4 linked regions of the Homo sapiens genome follow. The protein of the gene in region 4 interacts with the protein of the main gene of each other region in a pairwise test. Each region holds a gene or a part of one and is shown on either strand. Other genes may lie near its edges. The genes, in order: CDCA7L, CREBZF, CATIP and CTNNBL1.

Region 1 (7,035 bases), on a different chromosome or scaffold from region 4:
TAAGCAGCATTATGGCACCATGTAGGGGCTAAAAATGGTGCTGGGGAATCTCTTTCTGTTCCCAAACCAGAGCTGATCATGTAATAGTTGCTCTGGGTTCTGGAAAAGTAAAAGGATACACAATACCCAGAGTATATTTTCTTGACAGAAGCCAAAGCAACAGCAGCAGCTGTAGGAGCAAAGTGGTTCTGGGAGCCCAGCAACTGCTGCCAGAGCCTGGTGCCAACTCCCAGGACGCCCTCCGTGAAGCCTCACCATGGCTTTGTTCTCCTTGATGTTCATGGTCCTTTTCAGCAAAGCATCTGAACTCTCCTGGCTCTCATCCCGAGAGTCATCCTCAGACTCAGAGGTAGAATCTTCCCTTTGTATCACCTGTCTACAGTCTTTCTTTCTTTCAAGAATTGTTTTTTTCTCATTCTGTAAGCGTGCGCTAGAAAACAACTGCTCGGAAGAACTGTTTTTATCTGGTTTGTTGGCCAGCTTCTTGGTGGGGAACTGAAAGGCTACTCGAAGACCAATACTACTTCTTCTAGACCTGCTTCTTCTAGGGGTAGCCTTATCTTCTTCTTCATCTTCCTCTTCCTCGCTCACCAAAGATGCTTTGCCATCATCACTCAAATCTGACTCCACGACCTAATAAAATAAGAGCAAGAAAAAGCACAAAGACACTGTTACAGACCCACAAAAAAGACATGCATTTAAAACAACTGACAGCATTATGAGAAAAAACATGAAAAATGAAAAGCTTCCCCTTCATATTATGAGTTCCCTCTGAATTTCCTTTAAATGTGCAAGAAATTGGTTGATGAATAAAATCAGAGAGCAGGCAACCTACTACTGAACTGTGCACCATCATACCCGCGACAGAAATGGGTTCCATTCAGAGCATGAGGGCTGTAAGCAAAACACTGACAGGGTGGGTTCCTCCACCGTGGGACAACCAGGGAGCACCAGCAAGAGGAGAGACAGTCACAGAAAAGGAGAGACAGCAGCATGACAGATGTGATCTTCAGACAGGAAAGGACGCAACGGGGGAAAAATGCTGACTGGTCTCCTCTAAATAGCAGGAACCAGACTCCTGAATAACAGGGCGGGAGAGCTGACTGCACCTCAGGGCAGTGACCCAGGACAGGCAGATGACCTGCCACTGCGTCCTCAGTCAAGGGGCACCTTTCCCTTCTCTGGAACCCTCAGAGCCATGAGGTGAAACCAGGTCACAAAGCTCTACAGGTTGTAGCAAAACACCACTCAGTCAACTCAAGAAATCCTCACCCGACATTTTCAAATTCCACATGGCAGAGGTCTCCAGCATTCAAACATTGCTCTGTTTTACAAGTGAGAACACAGTAAATATGGAAGGCAGTAACAGGGATACATCACCTAGGTGACAGCTTGGATGTGACGGGACTCTTAGCAGTGGTACAGAGACAGGTTTAAGTATGTAAGATCTAGGACGTCTTCTGGGCATCCTTCCATGACCAGAAGCTAGAAAACTTTGGGAACCATTATCTGGGAATTCTGAAAATCTACCAAGAACACGGAATGGCACCGATACGGACCCAGGATCAGTTCAGGGACTCTGCTTCCTCCCCGGTGACGACCATCAACCCCAAACTCTCGTTGGACTAAAGTTAGAAATAAGACACAGGGAGAAAAAAAACGCAGATAACTGCCAACCCTGGTATATCCACACCAAGCCAAGTGAGGAGTAAGACTATATGGCACTGATTTATCTATTTTTTAATACCCTGAACTTCCCATATTAATAGCTTCAGAATTCAAAATGGTGTACTGCAAAGGAACCCAATTTCAGGGGACACTGTCAGGGAAGAACTTCAGTTTTGATCCATTTATCTACCATCCTCATCATCGACAGGCCTCTCTTTACCAGATGTGGAACAGCTCACTACAGAGGCCTGAAGGAAGGAAAGAACAAATGGTACACAGCAGCCCAGAATCAGACCCAAGAGAAGAGCACAAGTGTAGTACATGGATGTGGTTATTTCGCATCCGGCCAGCAGACCCCTGGAAACCAAGTTACAGCAATGTCCCATTATCAAGAAAGATAGGTTCGCCAGTTCCCACAGGGGTGGGCAGGAGGGTGGGCTGGGAGGCAACAATGCTTTTCTTCTCACTGGATTCTAAAATAAAATTTGCAAGGGCCTGTGCTGAACTGTAAGCTATATCATGATCTATGTAACTACATCACACAGTCCATAGACTTGGGGGCAGGTGGGAGGGAAGACTTCTGGGGTAATTCACTTTCTCTCACTAGAAATGCAAATGCTTCGAATAACCAGACATCACTTCACTAAAGAACAGAAAATAAGTACATTGCTAACTGATGATGCCCATTAGGGTTTTAGAAGCATCTTAATATCGTGCTGGCAAGAAGCTAGGGACTTGCTGGCCAGAACTGATGGAACTGCCACACAAACAGCTTCTGCAAAGAAAGCCAAAGGAGACCTGGGGCCTCCAGGCTGGCACAGCTCTATGTTGCTACTCATAGCAAAAAATCACTATCAAACGAAGCAGCCTACCATGCGGGCTTTTATGCTCTACATTCTCTCCTAGGACAAGTGAGGGACATGGCAGGCTAGGAGTCACGGCTTATTTATACCTCTACACAGTCTCTGCCAAAAGTTAGTCTTTAGCAGCTTCTGGCTGTGAAGAGGCGTAAACTCTACGTTCCATCTTCATACTGAAGAAGATAGTAGCATGTTTATTTTTTGCATAAATGTATGCTATTTTTAGCAGAAAACATTTCTGCACTTAAATCCGAAGGCTGTGCCTTAAAGTTACCTTCAGGTTCAAACACGAGTGGGCAGTAAACTAGCCTAACTGTGCAGGATAAAACAAACAAATAACTAACAAGTCTGTTCATAGGAAGTGCTGAGAGTAGACTTCCCTCCAGAATCCAGGCAGGCCTGGGTCATCTTTAACACTAAAAAGCATGACAAATCCAAATCCACAATGCATGGGGAACACCAAGTTTGTACCACAGCCAAATTTTTGCCAAATTAACTTCAAACCAAAAACTGTCACTTCACACACAGTAAGAAAGTATCTCAAGAAAGTTGTCATCTAAGATAAACTTTTAGATAAAAGAGGTTTAAGGAACTCTTGAGATAATTTTTTTTTTTTTTTTTTTTTTTTTTTTTTTTTTTTTTTTTGAGATGGAGTCTCGCTCTGTCACCCAGGCTGGAGTGCAGTGGCTCAATCTCAGCTCACTGCAACCTCTGCCTCCCGGCTTCAAGAAATCCTCCTGCCTCCGCCTCCCGAGTAGCTTGGATTACAGGTGCCCGCCACCACGCCCGGCTAATTTTTGTATTTTGAGGAGAGATGGGGTTTCACCATATCGGTGAGGCTGGTCTTGAACTCCTGACCTCAGGTCCACCCGCCTCGGCCTCCCAAAGTGCTGGGATTACAGGTATGAGCCACCGTGCCTGGCCAAGAGAGATAAATTCTTTGAGAAGGACAATAAAGGACGCCTGGGACACATCCCCAAAAACCCCCTAAGGCACGAGGAGAAGATGAATGGATTTTCTCTAAGAGAATAATGGACTGGTGGACCAGGGATTAGCCTTCCAGGAGCAATTTTTTTAGGTTATGTTAATTGCTTGTAAGATAAATATGTAAGAAAAATCTTTTCACTTGTGAAGTGACTGCTTACAAGTAAAACTCTTTCAGAAACAGGATTAAAAACGTTACCACCCACATCCCTTCCTGTTGTAATTATTACCATTACTTCTGGGTTAGTCTTTCCATTCAGATCACTCTGCGTAAATCCTGCAAAATCCTCAGTCTCTGAGTCAGTGTCCTCTATAAAAATTCTTCTTAGCTCTTCTGTGAAGTATTTGGAATGAAAGCGCACATCCTGCTAAATTAAAGACACACATACATCAGAGACGGAAAGTAGAATAGAGGTTACCAGGGAAGGGTAGAATGAGGAGCTACTGAACGGGTACAGAGCTTCTGATGGAGATGACGAAAATGGATGGACAACAATGTGAATGTACTTAATGCACTGAACTGTACACATCAAAAACAGCTGAAATGATATACTTCATGTTATGTGTATTTTACCACAAAAAAAAAAAAACACTGGCCGGGTACAGTGGCTCACCCTGTAATCCCAGCACTTTGGGAGACCGAGGCAGGCAGATCACTTGAACTCAGGAGTTCAAGACCAGCCTGAGCAACATAGTGAGACCTCATCTCTGCAAAAAATACAAAAATTAGCTGGGTCTGGTGGCATGTACCTGTAGTCCCAGCTACTTGGGAGGCTAAGGTGGGAGGATTACCCAACCCTGGGAGGTCGAGGCTGCAGTGAGCTGCACACCAATGCACTCCAGCCTGCGTTGCAGCCAAGATCACACCATTGCACTCCAGCCGGGTGACAGAGTGAGACCCTCTCTCAAAAAAACCCGCATACGTACACGTATATATTACATATATACACATTTTCTAAAGCTTACAAAATTCAGACCTACAAGACAGACAATTTTTAAAAATTGGGTGTAGTCTCAATCAGCTTCTAATGTGACTGGTAAGTGCTCATGGAATTCAGCTTCTCCTGCCAAAGCTGGCAACCAGACACGTCTGCTTTCACATAGAACCAAAACACATGGAAAGAAGATATGAGGAGAAAACCTGGCTCCCTCCCACGTGTTGGCTTCCCTTTCCAACAGCCTTTCAAAGCCGGAGTCTCCTCCAAGTGGGTGAGCATGCCTCCCATTCACCAACAGCGAGCTTCTCTGTAGGAAAAGGCTGGGGCCTCTCTCAGCCCCCACCGCCCACCACCAGAGAGCCTAGACTTGCTCCATGAGCAGACACCATGGGGGCCTGATGGAAAGCTCATTCAAGGTCACCCCCAGGAATTTCTCTCGTGCAGGAGGTGAGAGGTGAACAACCATGGCTAGGTGGCAAGTGAGCAGAAGGAAAGATGCAATGTGACTCTTTAAGAAAAGGCATTTTCTAATACTTTTTCTTTTGAAATAGTGCAAAGATGGAAACCCAACTCTCTTAATAGTATACTTGAAAGAAAGAGGAAATAACAAACTGCAGGCCAAAGGGAGACCCACGAGACCAGCCCCCTGCAAGCCCGCCACACCTCATCAAGACTAGAGTCTGTCCCCAGTTTCCTCTGACGTCTCTTCCCCCCATCTCTGATATAGCAATGACCCCTTGTAACACCACACTTGGCGGGGAATCTGTATCTACCCCACTGCGTTTCCCCGCCTTTAATTATATACTTCTTTGAGCTCATATATCTCTGGGGAAAGATAGATATAATAGACAAGTGGAAAAACTTACAGGGGCACACAGAAAGAAATGCCTACATCTAGCATTCTGTAAGCTTAAAAATGTCTCCTATGAATTATTATGGGTAATTGGAGTGAGTTTGCTCAGAGCTGAATTACTTTGTTCCTTTGTTGATAGCTGTAGTGCAGCTGCTTGAGAAAAAAAATTGCACACACAAAAGGGAAGTTTCTTTAAAGTGAAATTCAAATCGTGTTTAAGGGAGACCAGAGTTAGCATACACATACTGTGTGCAAGTTCATGCAGCTTCTCTCTATTGGTTAAAATGGATCATGAGCCTGTGGGGTCGGGGTAGAGAAGCAGCCAGGGCTTGATTATTAAGGAAGAATGGTACACAGCTGCTGCTAAGGAAACCCACCATGCACCTGAGGCCTCTCAGTGCAAGAAACATCTGGCTCACAGAGCCTTGGGCCAGCCCCTGCAGGCTAATTTAGAGTGGTATTTCTGTGTGCAAATTTCATCAACTACCTAAAGCCCCTGCCTAGGGCCTGAAGGGAACAGGGCAAGCCTTGAAGCTATGAGTTCCCATCTTCCAGTTTTTCTGGCTATTTTGATCCTGTGTGCTGGCCTCCCAGGGCAATGGGCATCTTGGGAGAGATTACCATCTTTGATGGTCAGTCCTGATAGAGAAAAACAACTTACCATTGTCCTGAACTGAGGCCTGTGCTTTAGTTTCCTTACTCCAAAGTGTGTAAGTACTGTTTTCCATGTGGGTCTGTATGATGCCAATCTCCACTCCACACTGCTCCACTGCATTCTGAGTTAGAAACCCTGGCACTGCTGATTGCTCTCTGGCACTGGTTCATTCATCTTCAAAATCAATACTGGGTGCTATGCTATAGGCCTTGGTCATCTACCATGATCAGGACCATAAGCAAATAACACATCAGAGGAGAAGCTAACATAGGTGGATAAACTTATTTTGAAGTCCATGTGACATGGAAGAAACAGACCAGAGAGCAATGGCCTGTTGAACCAGACAGCCAGACAAGCACCCCATTTCAACTGCACCCAGCAAACAACACCCCCCGTGCTCACTGTATACAGTCAGGTGGGGTGTTGGATGCTTGAAATCAGAGGAAAGGAACAATACATGAGGACGAAAAGTCAGAGCCAGGGAAGCTAGAAAGCACCATTCAAGTATGAGGTCTCCCCTTCTTAAGGAGTTTATAATCTAACAGGGAGGCAGACAGGTCCACGAATAACCCTGGTGAGGGTCAGTGCTCTAAGGGATACAAAGCAATATGGCACACGGAGGGAAAGAAAATCCAGTAAGACTTCATGGAAGAAGTAGCATAACTGGATGTGAGCCACGGTAGAGGCTAGAAAAATGGTGAGAGCACAGATAGGCAGGAACAGCATGGACCAGTGGGCAGAAAGGGCAGAACAGTGGATAATGAGAGTGTCAGTTCAGTTCCTGTGCCCTGCAGCATAGCAGGTAGGAAAGAGACCCGGCGGGGTAAGAGGCTGAGAAGTGGTGGCCCTGGATTTGGAACATCCCAGCTTGGTACTTCCCAGATGTGGGGCCTTGGGCAAGTCATTACACCTTCCTGAACGTCAGTTTCATCACTTGCAAAACTGCAGCTTCCCAGGGAGGTCTGTGGATTAAATGCAGTATCTGTATGAAAAGCAGTTGGCACACTGTCCTCCCTGGGGAGAACACACCTGACTACAAAAGGAGTCATCATAGCAGCAGAAGCAGCTGTTCTGTTT
Region 2 (4,356 bases), on a different chromosome or scaffold from region 4:
CCAATCATCACAGAAAAGTACCAAACAAAATTTTAAGTGGCATCCAAGATTATTCATGAATCTCTTAATTATTACTTCCAAATAGTGACATATCTGTTAAGTCATCTTATGCTACTTAAAATTATAATTTAGAAAAGGCATCTTTGTGAGTGAAACTGGCCTTTAGCTTCTGTTTAAAGAAAAACATAAAGCTGTGCTGCCAAAGATGAAAAACTCATGTGAAATTAATAAAATACAATCTCAATTTTTCAGAAAGCAAAGATGATTTGTTCTTTCAACAGGCACATAAAATATATTATCTACCAAACTTATATAAAAAATGATCCCAGTTATGAGGCAAAAGAATCTATGTGCACAAGAGACTGAAAGGAAGCATGCCAAAATGTTTACTGTGGATATTCTATGGCTTATAGAGTTATAAGGGTGATTTTTCTTTTCTTCTTGATTCCTTTCAGGATATTCCAAGTTTTCTATAAAGAATATGCTTTACTTTTACAACTAGGGAAAGAAAGACAGAAAAATATATATAACATTTAAAGGGCAAAACAATATAGCTGTTTATTTTACAGGCTAAAATATCAAGATGAAAAGCTCTGATCCCAAATCATCCATTTTACCTATATTCTGTCACTTTTACTAAAAGCAGAGTTCTACTCATCCCAGTGAAAAAAACAATGAATTAAAAGTAATTTCTGGCGTTAACCCAAGTACCGAGTTAAGACTCCTTAAGAATATAGAATTATGTAATCAACTTAGATAATTCAAAGCCCAATGATATAACTAAGTTCTTTGACGATTGAGCACACATTGTTTCCTTACTTATCTTTAAACATTCCTAGTCCAATTACTCCCTAGCATAATACCATTTATAAATGAGGATGAGTTTACAATGGTTTCTGTAACCAAAAAGTATTTCTAATATCTGTCCTCTGCCACATATTTTTAAATTATCTTTTCCATTAGCAGAAATGGGCAACATAAGCAATAAATCATGTTAAGTCTGTTGCTACAAATTTACTTTGCCAAAATTTTTGTTCAGAGGGCAGATATCTGCATTATTTAAGGACATTTAGTCATTTGTAGCTAACACCTGAAGTAAACTACCCTCAATCAATTTTTATATTTCAGTCTAGTCACTGTAGACAAACTATTTAAATCTTTTATAATTTACTTTGTGTAGTTATTTGGCTTAAAAAAAAAAAAAGAGGGCTCACATTCTATTTAAATTAAGACAATATATTTTATAAAGCCCAAATTATAGTACACTAAGAGCCAGAGGGGTCTAGGGAATTGATCTCAGTGGGTATACAGCAAAGACAAAATTTGGAGGCAGACGCTAAAGGAAGTTGAGATAAATAAAATTCAAATCAGTGTATTAACAGAACTACACAAATGTTTACAACACAGTAACTACACTTTTCAATTAGTTCATTGTGAAAACTGAGCAAAATATTTTCAACAATTTTGGGTCAACAAAAAGTATGGAATATTTTAAGACAATAAAGAGTGACTGGTGTTGAGAGTACTGAGGCTACACAGAGGTACTGAAATTCAAATCTGAAAAATACTGTGCTGGCCACACAACACTACAAATTTCTAATGGAAGAATTCCCTTTTTGATCCGCAGCTTAGGTGGTAAGTAAATAAAAAAACAGCTCAGAAAAACAGCAAAAATATTAACATTTAGGAGTCTCAAAACTTTGTATTGGCTGTGAGTCTGGGGGAAAAAAACATAAATGTCATACTACCAATTAAACTTTCAAGAGTCATCAGATTATTTAGCTTTAAAATTTTACTAAATCAGACCTTAAACTACACATTCAAAATGCTGAACTAGATAATCACATATTAAAAAGGTAATGACTCATTATCAGTGAATTACCCAGTCTGTTCTATCAAAGTAGTAGTTAAGGTCACCAAATAATGTTGGTGCCTTTGGTTCTGGAATTATAACTAGCTGTACTGTAGGAGCATCAGCGCCTAAGTTTTAAGCCAGTGGGAATACTCTGCTGCCTGGCTTCACAGGCACTGAATACACTTAAAATGGTAAGAAACTGAATGGATTTAATAAGTTTTGAATAATACAATAACCAACTGTATATTTATTATGAAGTAAAAGCCAATCTCCTACCCAATCCCTCTTCTATCAGCTGCACATTTCCAAGTAAGTGAGATAAAATGACTCAATCTAAACCACGTGAAGGAATGTATTAACATAATCCAACAAAAATGAAATAAAACAATCCAGAGTTTTGAGTGTTTTTTCACACTTGTAATAAACTGAAAAAATATTTCAATTAAAACAACCATATGCCACAAAAAGCCACTCCCATCATCCACAATACTAAAGTCCTTATACAACACTAGATAAATTTTTATATAAAACAGTAGAAACTAGCATACCATTAATTAGAAACCTCAAAATATTCAGAAAACAGTATCAAGTACTCAAGAGAAAGCTCAAGAAGCCAAAACCTCAAGAATCCATACATCCTGGTTGTTACCCTAAATTGTAATTAACTACCCACACATTTAATCATAATCAACTTTTTCAAAGATATACAAATCAATGCATCTATTTAAAAGGACTACTCTTTATAGTTCAGAACTTTACATTAACTTTTATATTCTACTCAGCAGGGTGTCTGTCTGTACTCCAAATTAGCTCTCATGTTCCAGGAAATAAATACAAACTCATATGCCTTGTGATCACTGATGGCCTGCTTATGTAATTCTAGTCCACTAAATGTTAATTCCATAGAATATGCTCTTGATTATGTAAAAACTCTAATTTCTTGATGAAATACTGTAATTCTCCAAAGGTTACAATTTTGTAAAGATATGCAATAACTGAGTATCACTCCCATGAAAGACAAAAAAAGTATAATTTTGTTCCAAGATTAACTTAGTCTCATGTATCTCTATTAAGTCTTTCAAGGATTCCAGAGAATCTTTTCATATCTCCATTTCTGGAAAGTGAAATCAGTATAGAAGTAATTTGGGAACTTGAAAATGGCATTCATTTTTTTCAGCAGATGCCAAATTTTTGACCGACATGGTTCTCACAATTACTTTGTTACCAACAGTCCAGTCAGTTAACAGGTTGTAGGAAAAGATTCGTTTTTGCAGACACTGCTAAGCTGTTCAAAGAGAAGAGAGAGAGATTAATTTAGTGATTATAAAATGCACAAATATTTAAAATATTTTGAACACTTCTTGTTGGATTATATCAGAGGTGTGACTACATTTTAACAAAAGTGGACTTTTTAAGATAAGTCTGGTCAAAGAAGTGCAGAAACAGTAAGTCAATATGATAGAAATAGTAGGTCAAAATATGATGTGTTAGTTCAATTAATGTATGAACTCCTGCCACCATCAAAAGACAAATATTAAAAAGCTACATCTTTAGTCTAGTTCTGTATTTTACCAGAGGCACATTTAGAAGAAAAACAAAAGGGTCACCCAAATACTAAATTGTTTTCAACCATTACAGTAAATAGAGCCAAACCTAGAAATTTCAAAAACAATCCATTTTATATTCCAGAAATCTCCTTTATCCATGTGCTAATCATCCAGAACACAATTTTCTAAAAATAGTAAGACAACAGTTTCACATTAATCATAACTTTTTTAATTAACAAGTAGTGAATCGGACACTTTAAGATATTGTTTACTACATACTGAAATAAACAGATCTGTTTAAATTCAGAAACCCAAACATTTACAGTAAAATGTGCTTACACATAAATATGACCAAATTTATTTAAAGCCCCTATTAGATAGATCCTAAGTACATGCAATTACCATGTAAAAACAAGACCATGAAGTTGATGTAAAAAATGACAAAATCACTAAGTCACCAAAACTAGAAAAAAAAAAATGAAATGGAAACTGAGAAAAGACAGTTAATAAAACATAAGGAACCTAACAAAGCAGCTTTAAAAATAGGCCATACTAATCCTTCCATTTTCAAAAGTTCTTATCAAGTAATTCCAAAAACTGCCATTTATAAAATGACATTCTAAAAATCTACACTTGGAATTTCAAAGTATCTCAATTCAGAAAGCTTTGACTACTGTTTCTCCCCAGCCCACAATTTCAAATAATGCAGGAAAAGTATTGACGTAAGGAAGAAAATACTCCAACAGAATGTTATAGTTTTTAGAAAAATGAACTTACTGCTTTCCAGAACCTTTTAAGACCCACAGTCAGCATTAACAATCATTTTTCCTATTTTCATCCATTATTTTCCAATATCATGTTAGAGATGAATAAATTCTTTGAGCCCATAACTAAAAGATCAACAAACCTGGTTTTATTATGACACCATATTTTTGTCATTGGTACTGCACAAAA
Region 3 (7,035 bases), on a different chromosome or scaffold from region 4:
ATTATTTTTGAGACAGAGTCTTGCTCTTATCACCCAGGCTGGAATGCAGTGGTGCAATCTAGCTCACTGCAACCTTCACCTTCCGGGTTCAAGCAATTCTCCTGTCTCAGCCTCCCAAGTAGCTGGGAATTACAGACATGCACCACCACACCTGGTTAATTTTTGTATCTTTAATAGAGATGGGGTTTTGCCATGTTGGCCAGGCTGGTCTTGAACTCCTGACCTCAAGTGATCTGCCCGCCTGGGCCTCCCAAAGTGCTGGGATTACAGGCATGAGCCACAACACCTGGCCCTGCTGCTTGGTTTTTTGTTTGTTTGTTTGTTTGTTTTTGAGATGGAGTCTCAAAAACAGCCTGTTGCCCAGGCTGGAGTGTAGTGGTGCGATCTCGGCTCACTGCAACCTCCGCCTCCGGGTTCAAGCAATTCTTCTGCCTCAGCCTCCCAAGTAGCTGAGACTACAGGCATGTGCCACCACACCCAGCTAATTTTTGTATTTTTAGTAGAGACGGGGTTTCACCGTGTTAGCCAGGGTGGTCTCAATCTCCTGACCTCGTGATCCGCCCACCTCGGCCTCCCACAGTGCTAGGATTACAGGCGTGAGCCACTGTGCCCGGCCCGGCTGCTTTTTTTTTAAGTCACAATCTTTAAACCTCAGTTTTCTCATTAATGGAGAAGGGTCAGGTGACCTCTGGGGGACCCAGGGAGTCCCTGATCCTCCCCCGCATGCTCTGGCCCTCAGTTCCTCATCCTCCCCATGGAACGGAAGATGAGTTTGCTGAAGCAGGATGATCAGCTGGCTGTGACCAGAAGTATCAAGGAGGGTGAGGTAAGGATGAGAGCCAGATGGGAGTTGCACTACACACTGTGAACCCAGAATATCTGAGACAGGTCCAGATCAATTTAGAGAGTTTATTTTGCCAAGGTTAAGGACGCGCACATGACACAGCCTCAGGAGGTCCTGAGGAAATGGGCCCAAAGTGGTTGGGGCACAGCTTGTTTTTTTTTTTTTTTTTTGAGACAGAGTTTCACATTTGTTGCAGAGGCTGGAGTGCAATGACGTGATCTCGGCTCACTGCAACCGCCACCTCCCGGGTTCAAGTGATTCTCCTGCCTCAGCCTCCCGAGTAGCTGGGATTATGGGCATGCACCACCACGCCCGGCTAATTCTGTATTTTTAGTAGAGAGGGAGTTTCATCCCTGTTGGCCAGGCTGGTCTCAAACTCCCGACCTCAGGTGATCCGCCCGCCTCAGCCTCCCAAAGTGCTGGGATTACAGGCGTGAGCCACCACGCCCAGCCTACAGCTTGGTTTTATACATTTTAAGGAGACACGAAACATCAATCAACACGTGTAAGATGTACACTGGTTCACCAGACGTAAAAATACAAAAAATTAGCCAGGCGTGGTGGCAGGCGCCTGTAGTCCCAGCTACTCGGGAGGGTGAGGCAGGAGAACGGCGTGAACCCGGGAAGTGGAGCTTGCACTAAGCTGAGATCACGCCACTGCACTCCAGCCTGGGCGACAGAGCAAGACTCCGTCTCAAAAAAAAAAAAAGATGTACATTGGTTCATTGGAAAAGGCAGGACAACTCGAGGCAGGGAGGGGGCTTCCAAGTCATAGGTAGATAAGAGACATGCTTTTAAGTTTCCGATTAGCCTTTCACTGAATACACAATTTACATGCTATGGGGGTTAGAAAAGTAGTCACTTATGCCTTACTCTGGCTTAGTGAAACAATAGAGCAGAGAAAGCCATCAGATATGCATTTATCTCACGTGAGCAGAGGGATGACTTTGAGTTCTGTCTGTCCTTTGTCCACAAGGAATTTCCTTGTGGGCAAATAGTGAGGGAGTTATATAGCTTTTTTTTCTCTTAGTAGCTACCTTGTTTAGGAATAAAATGGGAGGCAGCTTTGCCTGAGGCAGTTCCCAGCTTGACTTCCCTTTGGCTTAGTGATTTGGGGTCCCAAGATTTATTTTTCTTTCACAATGTCCTCTTCAGAACTCTGAGCGGGGACCAGATTAGATGAAGCCAGGAGTCCAGACTAACGATTCATTCATTAGGCTGGGCGCGGTGGCTCACGCCTGTAATCCCAGCTCTCAGAAGCAAGAGGCAGGAGGATAGCTTGAGCCTAGGAGTTCGAGACTTGCCTGGGCAATATAGCGAGACCCCGTTCTCCAGAAAAAGGAAAAAAAAAAAAGACAAGGATTCATTCATTAAAAACCATATGACCGGCTGAAGGCCAGGCGTGTGGTGACTCACGCCTGTAATTTCAGCACTTTGGGAGGCCAAGGCGGGCGGATCACTTGAGGTCAGGAGTGGAGACCAGCCTGGCCAATATGGTGAAATCCCCTCTAATAAAAATACAAAAATTAGCTGGGCGTAGTGTCGTGAGCCTGTAATCCCAGCTACTCAGGAGGCTGAGGCAGGAAAGTCGCTTGAACCTGGGAGCTGGAGGTTGCAGTGAGCTGAGATCGCACCACTGCACTCCAGTCTGGGCAACAGAGCAAGACCCTGTCTCAAAAAAAAAAAAAAAAAAGGCTCACGCCTGTAATCCCAACACTTTGGGAGGCAGAGGGGGCCTATCACCTCAGGTCAGGAGTTCAAGACTAGCCTGGCCAACATGGTGAAATCCGGTCTCTACTAAAATTACAAAATTTAGCCAGGCATGGTAGCCTGTAATCCCTGCTACTTGAAAGGCTGAGGCAGGAGATCGCTTGAACCAAGGAGGCGGAGGTTGCAGTGAGCTGAGACCACGCCATTGCACTCCAGCCTGGGTGACAAAAAGCGAAACTCTGTCTCAAAAAAAAACAAAACCGTATGCCCAACACCTGGCTTGCCCACCCTCCTGTCCCCTGCCCCTTCCTGGTTCCAGGACCCTGACCCAGATCAGTTCTGAACAGGAAGTGAAGACTGGAGTGACTTCTTTCCCCTGGAGCTCAATCAAGGGCTTCATCTCAGAGGCTGCCAACCTGGTGCTGCTCAGGGTGATGGCCTGGCGGCGGATGGTGCCCAGCAATGCCCGCTTCCTGACCTTGGACACCGAGGGCAAACTCTGCTATTTGACCTATGTAAGGGGTCCCCTTGGGCAGGGGACTTGGCTTGGGAGCGAACTAGAAAAGGCGTGAAAAGCACTGAGATGGGGAACAGCTGTGGAGTAGAAAAGGGAGGCAGGTGGGGAGAAAACAGCACAGGTGGGAATGGGGCTTTCAAGGGCAGGAAAGCATGTTTGTCTGGGAGTGTGGGGCAGATGAATTGAGAGTGACTGAGAAGTGGGAACAGTTCAGAGAAGCAACCCTTCCGCACAGAAGTCAGTCCAGGAAAAATAAATATAGTGCAGGGCTGATTTAAAAAATACATCATTTTGGGCCAGGTGTGGTGGCTCACGCCTGTAATCCCAGCACTTTGGGAGGCCAAGGCGGGCCGATCACAAGGTCAGGAGATCTAGACCATCCTGGCTAACATGGTGAAACCCCGCCTCTACTAAAAATACAAAAAAAAAAAATCAGCGGGGCGTGGTGGCAGGCGCCTGTAGTCCCAGCTACTCAGGACGCTGAGGCAGGAGAATGGCGTGAACCCGGGAGGCAGAGCTTGCAGTGAGCCGAGATCGCGCCACTGCACTCCCGCCTGGGTGACAGAGCGAGACTCTGTCTCAAAAAAAAAAAACAAAAAAAAAAAAACGTCATTTTGGCCAGGCGCAGTGATTCATGCCTGTAATCCCAGCACTTTGGGAGGCCAAGGTGGGCAGATCACTTGAAGTTAGGAGGTCAAGATCAGCCTGGCCAACATGGTGAAACCCTGTCTCTACTACAAATACAAAAATTATTAGCTGCGTGTGGTGGCAAGTGCCTGTAATCCCAGCTACTCGGGAGGCTGAGGCAGGAGAAGCATCACTTGAACCCAGGAGGCGGAGGTTGCAGTGAGCTGAGATCGCACAACTGCACTCCAGCCTGGGCAACAGAGGGAGACTCTGTCTCAAAAAAATAAATAAATAAAAATAAATCATTTTTTAACTTTAGGAAGTGTAACATGTCCAACTTTACTGAAATATTCCTTTATTATTTCTTAACCCCAAAGGGTGTTCCGTTTTTGTTTTGTTTTTTGTTTTTAACTAAAATTTCATAATCAGCATGCCTAGGACTTCCTGCAATCAGTGATTTTAAAGCCATGCCACTGAACACACAATTTCCAGTGAGACACTTTGGGGGCTGATTTGTGTTTCTTTGACCATCTTTGTAAATTACATTCCAGGCTTGTCTATCAAAACACACCAAGCAGCAATGCATTTGACATGAACAAGCACAATCCATTCCCCTCCGTGTTCTTTGAAACATGTGTTTAACATTAGCACTTTTTTCTCCATAGCTGCAGCTACAACAGGGGTTTAAGTTTTAATCACAACAGGGACAGCCTGCCAGCAACAGCACAGGTCTGAGGTGGCCACAAATCTGTCTGGTCTCACACCTCTGAGCCTCACTTTACCTCCACCCACTGGCCCTAGTAGCTCATCCTACCTCTCCGCTCCCACACCCCCCCGCATACCGCTTCTCATCCCTGTAACAGAATTTGCCAACTAGAAGCACCTGGTCAGCGAGATGACATGGGAGGGGTCAGGGCAAGGGCAACCTGGAGCTAGCTCCCTATGAGGGGTCGCCAACTCAGCTTGGAGGTTTGGAGATGCAATATTAAATGTCTTGAGGTTGTTATGAGATGGAGAAAAGGCTAAGGTAAGATGATGGGGAGCCCTTGGCGGGCATCCACCTTACCTCCCACCCCCCAATTTTGGCTGTTGCCAGCAAAACCTGGGCTTCCAGACCATCCAGGTAGACCATCAGCAGGCTGAAGTCTTCATCGTGGAGCAGACTGTCCACGCGGAGGAGGGCATCCCCATGTCCTGCCAGTACTACCTGCTCTCCGATGGGTGAGCTGCTGATGGTGGGCCCAGAGGGGTGGTGCTGAGCTTGTAGGTGCTCAAGGAGACCGGCTGCTTCTGGGGATAGCACCAGGAAGAACTGGCATTGAGATAGGAGTGTCCCTCCGCTTTATCCATATCATTCACTCTTTCTTCATTTATTTGCTCGTCCTCTTAACCCTCACAGTGCCTCCCAAACCTTCTCACTGCACACCACAGGCCTGGGGTGTAGCTAGTGCAGCCACCACTGTGTAAGGGATAATACTGAAAAACACCAAGGTCTGAATGACTGCACACTTGATGAAATCACTGTGCTGGAAGAATTGCCTGTGGCAGGCTGCCGTGCAGTCTCCAGCAAAGCACTGGCTCCAAATCATAAGAAAATTCAGGGCTGGGCGTGGTGGCTCACACCTGTAATCCCAGCACTTTGGGAGGCTGAGGCGGGCGGATCATGAGGTCAGGAAATTGAGACCATCCTGGCTGACACGGTGAAACCCCATCTCTACTAAAAATACAAAAAATTAGCCAAGTGTGGTCGTGGGCGCCTGTAGTCCCAGCTACTCTGGAGGCTGAGGCAGGAGGATGGCGTGAACCCAGGAGGCAGAGCTTGCAGTGAGCCGAGATCGCGCCACTGCACTCCAGCCTGGGTGACAGCAAGACTCCGTCTCAAAAAAAAAAAAGAAAGAAAAAGAAAATTCAGGTGGAAGAAAGAGTTTCTTTCTGTTTTTTTGTTTTGTTTTGTTTTTTTGAGACAGACTCCAGTCGAGTTTATTTCTTAAAATTTCAGAATAGATATTCACATAATCACTACACTGGGGAAAAGGTAATCAAAACATTGTTGGCTTTATCTCATAACTTAGTATGTTTTCGGTTTTGGTGCGATCATAGCCCACTGCAGCCTCCAACTCCTGGGCTCAAGCAATCCACCTGCTTCAGCCTTCCTAGTAGCTGGGACTACAGGTATGCACCACAGCTCCAGGCCAACCTTTTTATTTTGAATGCCGCATAGCAGGAGATTCCATAATTTTTCTTTTCTTTCTTTCTCCTTCCTTCCTTCCTCTTTCTCTCTTTCTCTCTCTCTGTCTCTTTCTTGACAGAGTCTCGCTCTGTCACCTAGACTGGAATGTGTGGCATAATCTTGGCTAACTGCAACCTCCGCCTCCCAGGTTCAAGTGATTCCCTTGCTTCAGCCTCCCAAGTAGCCGGGACTACAGGTGCCTGCCACCACGCCTGGCTAATTTTTGTATTTTTAGTAGAAACAGGCTTTCACCATGTTGGCCAGGCTGGTCTCAAACACCTGACCTGAAGTGATCTGCCCATCTTGGCCTCCTAAAGTGCTGGGATAACAGGCGTGAGCCACTACAAGTGTGAGCCACTGCGACAGGCCTCTTTCTCTTTTTGAGACAGTCTCGCTCTGTTACCCAGACTGGAGTACAGGGATGCAATCTTGGCTCACTACAACCTCCACCTCCCAGGTTCAAGTGATTCTCATGCCACAGCCACCAAAATAGCTGGGATTACAGGCGCCCACCACCACGTCTGGCTAGTTTTTTGTATTTTTAGTAGAGACGGCGTTTCACTATGTTGGCCAGGCTGGTCTCAAACTCCTGACCTCAAGTGATCCACCCATCTCAGCCTCCCAAAGTGCTAGGATTACAGGCGTGAGCCACCGTGCCTGGCCAAGAGGCTCCATGATTTTCGAGTGCTGTACCTCTAAAGATCCTTTTTGTTTTTTTTAAACAGGGGGCCTAATACTTGCCAAGCCCTGTGCGTTATTTGGAGATCCAGAAATGAACACCACCCAGGAACTTAATAAACAAGAGAGGGAGGCAGAAGTAAAGAGGCCCGGGACAGGTCTCTCAAGGGGCACTGTCATGTAGGAGTCTGCTTAGGCTGCCATAACAAAACACCACAGGCTGGGTGGCTTCAAGAGAAATATATTTGCTGGAAGGCAGGAAGTCCAAGATCATGGTGCCATCAGGGTTGGTTTCTGGTGAGGGCTGTCTTCCTAGCTTGCAGACAAGTGCCTTCTCAATGTGTCCTCACATGGCCTTTCTTCCGTGCATGAGTGAAGAGAAAGCTCTCTGGCATCACCCTTTTCTCATAAGGGCACTAATCCTATCTG
Region 4 (7,035 bases):
AACCTGATAGGACTCTAATGCTGGATAAGCTGGGCCCTGATCTATTAATAGCTACTCCTACTATCAAAGAGGGCTGTGGCCCTAGGCCCAGTAACCACATTCTCCCCACTCTGCCTTCTCATCCACAGCACAGGGACAACATAGTTGACCACGCTGGCCTCTCTAGGTTGCCATGAAGACTCTGTGCCCGCTGACACCTCTGTGCCTTTGTTCATGCTCCTCATATTGCCTGGCATGCCTTCCTGTGTTCTTTTCCGCCTAATAAAAATGAATCTTCAAGGCCCAGCTCAACTACTATCTTTTCTGTGACACCCTCAATAGCCCCCAACTTGGTATTTACTGTTTCTTCTCCTATTATATCTCTTTTAAAGTGTCTGTTTCCTTCTACCTTGCCTTTATAGTCAGTCTCCCTAGTAACCTAAAAACTTGAGTGCAAAGCCTGTACTACTCAATTGTTAATTGCCTGGGGGCCTTGGGCATATTAAGATTCATTAAAATTGTATGTCCTGGGAGGGACAAAGATAGGGAAAGAAAGAGAGGTTTAGAACATTAAAATCGTATAAATGTGAAAGTCCCCTTGGTTAGGATTCAAGACTGACTGAAAGATGCCAGATTCCTCACATAGCACTTCATAGTGCACCAAGGTGCCAGTGTAGTAAAACTCACGTTAACTATCATCTCATGGGCACCTACTATGTGCCAGGTACTAAGCTAAACACTTACATTATTCTCCTTTAATCTTCATACAACCCTGTGAGGAAGGCATTATTTCCTTATACAGATGAGACACCCAAGGCTAAGAAAGGGGAAGTAACTTATTCAAAGGGATGTGTGTATCACACCAATATCTGTCTAACTTCAGAGCCTCTGAAATGATCTCCACAGTAAAGCTATCACTAACGGCAGGCACGATCAGTCTTCTTTGGGCACTGAAAAGAATAATGCAGGAGAGTTAATATGTTAACTGCGGGGCTGATCTTGAAAAGGGCTAGCTTACAAGGCTGGCCCTAGGCTGGCAGCCAGGAATTTGGCTTTTGAAATGTTCCCTAAGTGATAAGGTTGCTGCTTTGTCAGCCCGGGGCACTGAACAGCTGCTTTCCTTCCAGGAGCCTACAATTTTGGTTGTTATTGTTATTACAGGCAGAGAATGCCTACATGACCAGTCCTCCATAAAAACCCTGAACTCAGAGTCTGAAATGGGCTTCCCTGGACAGCATCACTGCACACATGTTGATGCATTTCATTGCTGAAGAAAGAAGCATGTTTGTATAATCCCACCCACTGGGAAGGAGAAAACATAGGAAGCCTGTATCTGAATTTCTCCAGATGCCACCTGATGTGTCTTTTTCTCTTGCTGATCCTGTTGTGTGCCCTGTGTAATAAACCACAGCCCTGAGTATCACTGACTTTGAGTCCTGGGAGTCCTTCTAGTGAATTCCCAAACATGGGGGTCATCCTGGGATTCCTGGCCCAAATCACAAAAGCCAAAACAAACCAAAATCAAAACAAAATTAGCCAACGAAACGCCACAGAGGAGACATGGTATCAGTGGAACAGAACCTTACTTCTCTGGATTGTCTGGAAACTTAATCCGCAATTCTTGGTTTTTATATGATCTCTTTTCAAATGTGAGGATCATTTTCTTCACTGAGCTTTCATCCAATGGCTCCTCCTGGTACAAAGAGACAAATGCAAAAACTTCAGTCCACAGGGGTTTCACATTCATTGTCACTACTTTCCTGTGGCTCTTATACCCCACCTCACTCTGCCATTGACCTTTCTGGGTTCAATGTACAGTACACTTTTTTTGTTTTGTTTTGTTTTTTGAGATGGAGTCTTGCTCTGTCGCCCAGGCTGGAGTACAGTGGTATGATCTCAGCTCACTGCAATCTCTGCCTCTCAGGTTCAAGCGATTCTCCTGCCTCAGCTTACCGAGTAGCTGGGACTACAGGCACATGCCCCCATGCCCGGCTAATTTTTTTGTATTTTTAGTAGAGACAGGGTTTCTTCGTGTTAGCCAGGATGGTCTCGATCTCCTGACCTCGTGATCTGCCCACCTTGGCCTCCCAAAGTGCTGGGATTACAGGTGTGAGCCACTGTGCCCGGCCACAGTACACACTTTATCTCTCTAATTACAATGAGGAGTAAGGGCCTGTAATCACATGCTTCTTTTCGGGTATATCACATTGGGTGTCTCACACAATGCCCACTATCTGTAACACAGAAAATTCGGTTTGAGGTGTTAAAGACTGGGCACTTCAGCACTTCAGGAGTCCAAGGTGGGCAGATCACTTGAGGTCAGGAGTTCAAGACCAGCCTGGCCAACATGGCAAAACCCCATCTCTACTAAAAATACAGGCACATGCCTGTAGTCCCAGCTACTCGGGAGGTTGAGGCATGAGAATCACTTGAACCTGGGAAGCAGAGGTTGCAGTGAGCCGAGACTGTGCCGCTGCACTCCGGCCTGGGTGAGAGAGGGAGACTCTGTCTCAAAAAAAAAAGAAAAGTTGTTAAAGACTCACTCATTCAACAAATATTTCTTGAGCACACTGTATGGCAGAGAGTAAGCAACAATATTAGATAATATTATTATACATTTACCTTGTCATCCTTTGCTATACATGTAAGATAAGACTGACAGGTTTAAAAGAATTGTTTAAGGTCAAACTCTGAGTCAGTGACAGTGACCCTTAATCTTTTCCTACAGCAGAAGTTGGCAAACTGCAGCCCATGAGCCAAATCCAACCTACTGCCTGTTTTTCCACAGTGCGTAAACTAAGAACGGTTGTTAATTAGCTATAGTCACTGCTTAGCATTTCTTATATATTACTTTGCCTGGTACTTACTAGATGCTGAGAAGGAATTCAGACAGGTACTTTGAACCCTGAAGTAGCATCAAGAATTTAGTAACCTTGCCTAGAGAATGCAAAAAAAAGCTAGTAGACTGTACAGAATTTTCTGGCTTCATACATTGGAATAATACCTATGAAAGCAAATAAAATGAATATTTGAAAACTAAATCATTTTTTCTCCAAAAAATCTACACTGAAATTTCACACGTTTTATCTTCAGTTTCCTTCCAGTTTAAATTAATGTGCTGCAATGCACCCTGCTTCTCTTCATACTATCCCAACTCAAAGCTTCACAGCTTTGTAGTCATTGACCATAACTCACACCTAAAAGCAATAAAGAAACTGCTATTAAGAGAACCTGAAATAGATCCTTTTGGAAAGCACTGAATCATCCCATAATTTTATAAGTACTCAAAAATGTTAGCTATTATTCTATTATTAAATTTCTATTTCCACATATGGGGTTTTAAGTGGGAGCTACCCATAAATTCATTTTCAGCATGACACATTTATTAGATTATACCAATGACTCCTAGATCCCAAGGTTCTCTATTGAACCCCTACCTCCTCCCCAGGGTCTACAGCTTAAAGACAGGTTCCCTGACACAGTAAAAACAAGTCAGAGTCCTGGCTCAGTCAAGACTCAGAGCCTAGCTTCACTACTTACTAGCCATGGGACAATGTTACTTTGCTGAATATATTTCTCAAAGCTTCATCAAGTCCAGCTAATTCTATCTCCTAAGTCTTTCCTGAACTCATCCACTACACACTTAGAATAAAATCCCAAATCCCTCACATGATCTACGTAAGGATCTGGCAGGATCTGCCCAGATAATCTCTCCAACCCCAAACCAGTGCAAAGACTCCCATTGCTAGCCCATGTCTACTTGTTCTCTGGCATAAGTAGACTCTCCAGTGTCTGGCACACAGCAGGTACTCAGTGAAGATCTGAGGAATGGAGGAAGGGAGGAGGGGAGGGGAGGGGAAGGAAGGGGATGAATGAAATTGTTACCTGTTATCTCTCAAGGTCATAGAGATGACCTAAAGAAAGGATGTACATAAAACTACTTTGTAAACTACATGAATGCAAGCTGTTATGGTTATTATCAGCAACAGGCACAATGTACCCAACATACCACTAGAATTTAACTAAAATAATCAAAACATTTCTAGGAAAGGGTTAAATCACTTTCAAGTAAGCTCAATATCTGCTACTTTTTCTTTTCTTAGCTAACATCTTGCCCCACTCTGGAGAAAAACCACATTAGTGTTAACACAGCTCTCATGGGATTTCCGAAGTCCTAGCCTCTCCGGGGTTTGGCCTTCCCTCCTTTAATTTCTCTCCAACACTGGGGGAAAACTGAATTATCAGTCTTAGTCATCAGCCACAGCAGTATCTCCAATAGCTCAACGTCAGAAACCAGAGGGAGATTTCAGAAAGATGAATGCTGATGATGTAGCACAAAAAGGACAATAATATTTTACAAGTTCACGTGACTTTACAGGGGCAAACATCACTTGTTTTTCATCAAATGGGACTTCAGTGGCAGTGAGAAAATAACTCCTGGACTTGTAGCCTTCCATGTGTCATTTTTACAAAGCGATCTCTTTTTCCCTGTCCCTTAACAGACGGGTTGGTCCCACATTACATTTCTGTCTCCCAGGCTAGAAACCACTTACCCATGACAGCTACTATCCTAATCCTCCAGTACCAGCCTTGCCCTACATGGGAATTATACCTGCCAATTAACTGCTGCTGCAGGGCTAACAGATTGAGCAGAAGCTGGTGAGGAGGGAAGGGAGGGAGGATGTGCTACACACACTGTTTGTCTAAGCCCTGGCAAGGCTGCTGCCCTCAGAGAGGAAATTAAAAAATTCAGGACTGTCTCCCACCACGTATTTCTAAAGTGCCATCATCTTTTAGCGGGAGACCCCCAAATTAGCACTAGTACAAATCCTAATAAAGACAGAGCTATTGTCACAACACAGTAAAGACCTTTTTGGAATATGAATCCATTTTTTCTTCTTCTCAGATTCACAGCCAACCTCATTTTGTAATCCAAACTTAGCATCGTGTCTTTGAGAGAACCAAAAAACAGCTGGCTCTTAAGACTCTTATTTCCATAATTCATATTGAACAAAATGCCAGAGTGAAATAACACACAAGTTAACACTTAAAGATTTAAAAAGACACAGAGGTAAGGTCATTTTGTTTTTAATCACTGATATTTTACCTCTACTCTTCCCAGCTTCATTCATTTATTCATTCAATAAATATTTATTAAGGGCCTACCAAGAGCTAGGTATTGCTCTGGGTGCCAAAGATAGAGCTGTGAACAGAACAGAGCCAGTCTCTGTTTTCATGGGAGGCTGAGAGGAGGACAGCAATGAGCAAAATAAACAACTAGAATTTCAAATCATGATACGTGCTATGCAGACAATATACAAAATACAGTAATGAGGAAATGAGAGAATGGCTTGCAGGGCTACATAGGAAAGACTTCTTGGAGGAGGAAACATCTGAACTGAGACCTGAATGTGAAGAAACCAGTCATACAAAGCATTAAGGGAGACGAGCATTCCAACAGAGGACACAGAAGTCCAAAGGTCCAGAGGCAGGAATGAGTGGAAAGGCCCCAACGCATCTTGAGGAACAGCAAAGGGAAAGGCCCGAGGAATCTCCTTCCCTAAGCTGTACTTTTGCAGTCACACCTAAATACCTAATACTGTGGAACCCATTAAACTTCTCCACTTTTGTTGCTTTGCTAATACCATTTTCTCTGCCCAAAAAGCCCTTCCTTCCACTTGGTGAAATTTGACCCCTCTTTCAAAGATAATAATGCAAGTGCCTTCTATGTGTCCTCAGTAAGATCCAGGAAGCCTGCCCTGACCCTCCCCTACAGTACATAATATGGAACAATTTTAAAACTCTGTCACATTCTTTACATCTCATAAGATGCTTTCCCAACTGCACTAGCCCACTTAACCTTCACATTAACGCGATGAAATATGAATTCTTAACCCCATTTTACAGATGAAGATGGGAAGCTCAGACAAGCTTAGTATTTGGCCCAAAATTACGTTTTACAGGGCCAGCCATCTCAGCTCCCACCCAGCGCTGCCACGTTACCTCTTCCTCTTCCTCTTCCCCATCTCTGTCAATAATCTGCAGCAGCCTTTTTTTGTCATCATCCGCTTCCTCCACCACAGTCATTTCTTCTTCCCGATAGCGGCCGCGTTCTCGAGTACCAGTTTGTTTCCGACGCATCTTCTGCTCCTCCTCTTCATCATCCCGGGGACGTTTTGTGCCCCTATTGGGCTGAGAGAAAAGAAACATAAGATTTTAGAGCTGGATACAACATAGAAGCCAGGCGTGGTGGCTCATGCCTATAATCCCAGCACTTTGGGAGGCCAAGGCAGGCAGATCTCTTGAGCCCAGGAGTTTGAGACCAGCCTGAGGCAACATGGTAAAACCCTGACTCTACAAAAAATACAAAAAAAGACTTTGCAAGGCATAGACAGCAAATATCCTAAAAGCTTTCAAGAATTCTCTGACTCAAAAGCATCCAGCATACAACTTCTCCCACCACATGGGGTAAAGCTCTATGTGGTCATTTTTCAGATCCTTAATGATTCTATAAATATACCATGAAAGTCAGTGGGAATTTTTTTATACGCAGTTTTGCCATTTCACAAAAGTTCCTATGTATACGGAAATAGCAACAAAGCTATCTTAAGATGGGGACACTGGGTTAGGCTCACATACTAGTCAAGATATAACTCCCAATGCCAGCGTCTTAGCACCTGGTTTTAATTCACATCTACGTAAGATTACAAAGCCTTTTTTACAGTTACTCACAAATAGTACAAACATAAAATATTACATATGTAACTTCTGAATGTCTACTGTACTCCCAATTCTATTTTACAGAAGAGTTGAGTAAGGCCCAGAGCCTGGGCAAAGGACCTAAATAGACACTTCTCAAAAGAAGATGTACAAATGGCCAGAAGATATATGAAAAAAATGCTTACCATCACTAATCATCAGGGAAATGCAAAGAAAAATCACAATGAGTTATCATGTCACACCTATCAGAATGGCTATCATGAAAAAGACAGAAGATAAAGTGTTGTTGAGGGTGTAGAGAAAAGAGAACCCTGTGCACTGTTGATGGAAACACAA

The links.
Region 1: the proteins of CTNNBL1 (region 4) and CDCA7L interact in binary tests that used the Homo sapiens proteins (3 or more experiments, as listed by UniProt).
Region 2: the proteins of CTNNBL1 (region 4) and CREBZF interact in binary tests that used the Homo sapiens proteins (3 or more experiments, as listed by UniProt).
Region 3: the proteins of CTNNBL1 (region 4) and CATIP interact in binary tests that used the Homo sapiens proteins (3 or more experiments, as listed by UniProt).

What each region holds. Positions count from the first base shown.
Region 1 is NC_000007.14:21,907,875-21,914,909, forward strand, and holds part of CDCA7L (cell division cycle-associated 7-like protein), read right to left. Parts: intron 3,881-7,035; coding exon 3,743-3,880; intron 634-3,742; coding exon 256-633; intron 1-255. UniProt on the Homo sapiens protein: Plays a role in transcriptional regulation as a repressor that inhibits monoamine oxidase A (MAOA) activity and gene expression by binding to the promoter.
Region 2 is NC_000011.10:85,657,458-85,661,813, forward strand, and holds the end of CREBZF (CREB/ATF bZIP transcription factor), read right to left. Parts: 3' UTR 533-4,356; downstream 1-532.
Region 3 is NC_000002.12:218,359,834-218,366,868, forward strand, and holds part of CATIP (ciliogenesis-associated TTC17-interacting protein), read left to right. Parts: intron 1-739; coding exon 740-826; intron 827-2,901; coding exon 2,902-3,069; intron 3,070-4,794; coding exon 4,795-4,919; intron 4,920-6,831; exon of another isoform or gene 6,832-6,965; intron 6,966-7,035. UniProt on the Homo sapiens protein: Plays a role in primary ciliogenesis by modulating actin polymerization.
Region 4 is NC_000020.11:37,732,015-37,739,049, reverse strand, and holds part of CTNNBL1 (beta-catenin-like protein 1), read right to left. Parts: intron 6,172-7,035; coding exon 5,983-6,171; intron 1,673-5,982; coding exon 1,566-1,672; intron 1-1,565. UniProt on the Homo sapiens protein: Component of the PRP19-CDC5L complex that forms an integral part of the spliceosome and is required for activating pre-mRNA splicing.